Regions from separate parts of the Homo sapiens genome. Here region 2 is linked to region 1. The links come from fine-mapping of genetic effects on gene expression. A gene starts in region 1. The other region holds a variant in brackets. All regions are shown on one strand. Distances are between the middles of the regions.

The links. PIP is the estimated chance that this variant, and not a neighbour inherited with it, causes the effect.
Region 2: its variant is the best candidate, but not a certain one, in a credible set for the expression of MGC4859 in nasal epithelium (TOPMed, PIP 0.50).

What each region holds. Positions count from the first base shown.
Region 1 is chr7:10,778,283-10,781,207 of GRCh38, forward strand. MGC4859 (a long non-coding RNA gene) reads right to left here and starts at 1,662. Exons shown (of 3, transcript NR_147499.1): 1 at 1,600-1,662.
Region 2 is chr7:10,460,967-10,463,891 of GRCh38, forward strand. The region is part of intron 2 of MGC4859 (a long non-coding RNA gene); the gene reads right to left. Among named protein-coding and RNA genes, the nearest start is that of MGC4859, 320 kb to the right of the region's middle. The variant A/C (reference allele first, on the strand shown) is at 1,538.

The DNA.
Region 1 (2,925 bases):
ATTGCGGCACTATTCACAATAGCAAAGACTTGGAACCAACCCAAATGTCCATCAATGATAGACTGAATTAAGAAAATGTGGCACATATACACCATGGAATACTATGAGGCCATAAAAAAGGATGAGTTCATGTCCTTTGTAGGGACATGGATGAAGCTGGAAACCATTATTCTCAGCAAACTATCGCAAGAACAAAAAACCAAACACCATATGTTCTCACTCATAGGTGGGAATTGAACAATGAGAACACTTGGACACAGGAAGGGGAACATCACACACTGGGGCCTGTTGTGGGGTGGGGGAAAGGGGGAGGGAAAGCATTAGGAGATACACCTAATGTAAATGACGAGTTAATGGGTGCGGCACACCAATATGGCACATGCATAGATGTGTAACAAACCTGCACGTTGTGCACATGTACCCTAGAACTTAAAGTATAATAAAAAATAAATAAATAATTGAGATAACTCAACAATCTGGTTTTTACACTTTATAAATTATTTTCTATTTACTTTATCTGGGTAGTTGCCTATTACCTTCACTGCCACTGAAACCTGACCTTTCATTCCTAGGGGAAAAAAAGGTATTTTATGATATATAATATGGTCATATAACTATACTATAAGCATTCATTATTTATTATTATTCTGAGTCAGGAATTGTGGGAGACCCAAACATTTATAAAATACAGATCTCCCTACAGCTCACAATATGGAGGAGGTTAGGAGACAAATTTCTGGGAGTGAAGGCTGTAATTCAGAGCTGTACAAGAGAAAATCAAAGAAATCCTTAGATAATCTGTCCAGAAGTTTCAACCAATAATGAAATTCAGGACTTATGAACTGAACTTTTCTGGGACCTATATCTTAGATCACTTATACCATTTAAATACTTTTTTCTTGTAACAATGACATTTTTTGACTAGATATGTCTTAAGGCTCCTGGCAAAAGATACAGGATATTTCTGATAAGGTTTGGTTTCAGAACTGAACTCTCCTCCGTGGAGACATTTAGGAAAATACAGCCAGAGAATTAAAACTGCAGTGATCAAGGCTTTTATCACACACCCATTTGCTAGGCCCATTTCCCCCATAAAATCAAGTTTCGTTGGAACGCAGAGCCCCGCTCATTCAAACCTCCACGGTGAAGTTGAGAAGTTGCCACACATTGCTGGGCACTCCTCACTGGACACCTCTGCGGGGCACTCTACAGACCTCAGGGCCGCGATCACCAACCTGCAGCGTTTCCAGTTCCCTTCCTTAATGCCCACCCCGCTCCTTCCTGGGTCGCCACGGAGGAGTCCAGAATCTGTCCTCTGTCGAGGGTTCCACGGACTCCGATACCTGCTCCAGCACCCCCAGCACTTACCCCATCTTCACCTGAGCCTTCTCAACTACGCGGCCCACCTTCTTCCCTCGTTCTGACCCCACTACAACAAGGCCCATGGCGGTGCCACCTCACGAGGAGAAGGACGATCACCTTGAGACCCATCGGCCTCTGAGGCCACGGACCACGCTGCCCCATGCTCCAGACGGCCGCTGGCTCCTCCTCACACTCACTCACACTTCAACCCCTGGGAAGACTGGCCTGCGGACCTACCGGCCGTGTCTCAGTAGGACAGAAAAAGTCCAGACAGCAGGAGCGCGACCCTCACACCCTCACAGCTCCGCCGCGTTCACCACGTGGGCAAAGGGGCCGACGGGAAGACGCCCAGGGCACATGCGCAGTGAGGTCGGTGCCTGCTCTGTGGGCTGTGGCGCCCCTCCTCGACCCTCCTCGCTCTACCCCATCCAGCGCCGCGCAGTCCTCTGCCCTCTCCCAGGTTCCCACTGAAGACTTTGGAATGTGTCTTCTGTGGGCGGTTTCATATGCCTCCGGGACTCAAATACCACAAATGGTTTCCCCCTTCAAAACTCCATGTTCACTCGGCCCTCCTCCTTTCTATGGCCCTCCTTCCTACCCTGTCTGGGACTCCCACGACAGCAAGGCCATGGCTGCGTCGCCGCCTGTTAGGAGAAGGACAGGGACCTCAAGGCCCTTCCCCCTAGGAGGCCATAGACTGCGCCGCGGGCTTCTCCTCACGCTCTCTCACACTTCAACTCTGGGAGGACTTATCTGCGGACCTAGTGGCTGACTCCTAGTCAGCAACACAGAAAGAAGTCACGATGTCTCCTTGCACAGCTCTGCGGGGACAGAAGGCAGACAGCAAGGCACATGGACAACAAGGGACTTGGGCAGCAAGGGGCATGCACACTGAGTCAGGCACATGCAAGGCCAGCCGCGGTTTTCCCTCTCTCCTCTCACCCCGGACTCGCATCCCTAAGGTGTTTGTAGCAGAAAGAAAGGGACTAAGAGGCTTTGTTCTCTCTCTTACCCTACCATTCTCATGCATCCAGAAACACTGGGAACAGACAGTCCCCATGTCACCATTAGTGGAGGATGTGTCTGAGAAAGACCTTTTGTGACAGAAATAAATTATTTTAATATCTTTAAAAAAAGAAAAAAGAAAACCTGAAAAAAGAATATGACAAACTAAAATTAGATGAAAGGAAAGACTGTCATTTTTCCTCATGTTTTATAAAATAGGTATTGCTTTGATGTGTTTTGTGAAATTATACTTTGAAATATCATGCTATTTTCCTTAACTTTGTTTACCAAAAGAAGGGTAAAAATGATAATTGATAAAGATCTTTCTCTTCAATTTAAAAATCCTGAAATTTGTTATTCTAATAAATCTCTCCATCAAAATGAATATACATTACAATTTACAACTCTGAGAGCCTATTTTGGAAAGTAGGTTTGTCTGATACTATGATATTAAGACATTTGAAAGGGTTTTTTTTCCCTTTAATAACACATTATTTGGCATTATTTTCATTCTTTTTATGGGAAATTTGACCCAAATTTGCCTTCTTATTTGTATAA
Region 2 (2,925 bases), 320 kb before region 1:
AAAAAAGTAAAAATAGACAAATGGGATTACATAAAAATAAAATCTCAAATAAAAAGTTTCTGCACAACAGGGAAAACAACAGAGTGAAGAGACAGCCTATGGATTGGGAGAAAATATTTGCAAGCCAGATGTTTGTTGAGGGGTTAATATTCAAAATATATTTAAAAACTCAAATTACTCTGTAGAAAGAAAATAATTATTCTAATTTAAAAATGAGAAAAGGATATGAATAGACTTTTCAAAAGAAGATATGGCCAACAGATATATGAAAAAATGTTCAAAATTGTTAATCATTAGGGAAATGCAAATGAAAAGCACAGTAAGATATCACCTCACACCCGTCAGAATGGCTGTTATCAAAAAGACAGATAAGTATAAGTGAGGACATGGAGAAAAGTGAACCCTTTTACACTGTTGGGAACATAAATTAGCACAGTCGTGCACTGCATGCCGACGTTTCAGTCAACTACAGAGAGCATATGTGGTAAGGTTCCTGTATGATTATAATGAAGCTGAAAAATTCCAATCGCCTAGTGACATCTTAATAATCCTAACCATGTGGAGGATTAACCTAATGTGTGTGTGTTTATGTCTTAGTTTTTAACAAAAACATTTAGAAAGTAAATTTTTAAAAATACAATAAATTTAAAATAGATAAAAGCTTGCAGAATAAGATTATGAAGATAGAAATATTTTTGTACAGCTGTACGATTTGTGTTTTGAACCATGTCATTACAAAGCAGTCAAAAGGATGATCAAAATTAAAAGTTTATACAGTAAAAATTTATAGCAAGCTGTTAAGGTATTATTGAAGAAAGAAAATTTTAATATAAATTTAGATTTGCATAAGTGAGTGTGTATAAAGTGTACAGCAGTGGACAGTAATGTTCTAAACCTTCACACTCTCTCATCACTCACTGACATCCAGAGCAACTTTCAGTCCTGCAAACTAAATTTATGGTAAGTGCCCTATGTAGATGTATCCTGTTTTTTATCTTATATACCATATGTTTACTGTATCATTGCTGTTTAGATTATTTAGATACACAAACACTTTCCACTGTGTTACAATTGTCCACAGTATTCAGTACAGTAATATTCTGTATTGGTTTATAGCTAGGAACAATAGGCTGTACCACATAGCCAAGTGTGAAGTCGGCTGTACTATCGAGGTTTTTGTAAGTACACTCTGTGATGTCTACACAATGACAGAATCATCTACCAATACATTTGTCATAACATATCCCCATCACTAAACAATGTAGACTGGACAGCCATTATGGAAAATTATAAGGAAGCTCCACAAAAACACTAAAAATAGAATGACCATATAATCTAGCACTTTCATTTCTGAGTATTTATGCAAAAGACTTAAAATTAGTATGTTGAAGAGATATTTGCACACCCATATTTATTGCAGCACTATTTACAACAGCTAAGTTGTGGGATCAACCTAAGTATTCATCAACAAATGAATGGAAAAAGAAAATGTCATATATATACATGCAATGGAATACCATTTAGCCTTAGAAAAGAA[A/C]AAAATTTTGTCATTTGTGACAATACGGTTAGAATTGGAGAACATTATGCGAAGTGACATAGGCCAGGCACGGAAATACAAACACTATACTGCATGTTCTCACTTACATGTAGAATCTGAAACAATTGAACTCAAAGAAGCAGAGCAAATTTTTTGTTATCAGAGACTACGGAGTGAGGGGGATGAGAGGGATAAGGAGATGACGGTGAAAGGGTAGAAAAACTTCATTAGACAGAAAAATAAGTATTTTTTTTTACTTTGAGATATATTACACAGCGTGATATCATAACTAATAATATATTCCACATTTCAAAATTGCTGAGAGTAAATTTCAAATATTATCACCACAAAAAAGATAAATATTTTAAGTGAATGTGTTAATTAGCTTGATTTAATTTTTCTACATTGTATTCATAAATTATGACATTGCTTTGTACCCTGTAAATATACACAACTATAATTTGACAATTTCCAATTAAAAAACTAAAATTTAAAACAAATAATACCTATTGCAAGTAAATAAAACCTAGTAAATATTTTAGTAATAATAAAGAAAATGAGTAAAAGACATGACCAGACACTTCACAAAATAATATGTACAAACAGCCAATGAACACATTAAAATGTGTTCAGCATCATCAGATATCAATAAAATATAAATAGAAACTCTCATAAGGTACCACTACACATTCACCAGAATTAGTAAAATTAAATACTGACACTACCATCACATTTTAGAAAAAATGTGGAGCTTTCATGTATTGTTGATAAAAGTGTAAAATGGTAAAGCCACTTTGTAAAATGACTTAGAAATTTCTCATAAAGTTACACATCTACTTATCCTATAATGCAGCAATTCCATTCCTGGGTATTTACTGAAATAATGAAAACATATGTCCACAAAATCATTTTATACAAGAATGCTCACAGTAGGGTTATTTATGATAGTAAAAATGGTGAAGCAATGCAAATATCAATTGACAAAGAATAATATACTCATATAATGGAACACTATTCAGCAATAAAAAGAAACTAATTAGTGATATAAGGAACAACATTAATGAGTCTCAAAACATGCTTAGTGAAACAAAGCCTCATCTTTGCACTTAAAATCCATCAGAAACTTCCAGTTGCCTTTAGGATAAAGTGAAAAATGCTAGCAGGCAAGGACCATAATCAGGTTCAAGTTGTATCTGCCAGTACTTCTCTCAGCACTCTTGTGTTTTAGTCATTATAGGGATTTGGAAACTTTTCTGTAAAGACACAGATAATAAATAAATACTTTAAACTTTGCAGACCAATGATCTCTGTCTCACATACTTAACTCTCCTGTTGAAATGTACAAGAAACCACAGAAAATATATCAAGGAATGAGTTTGGCTGTTTTT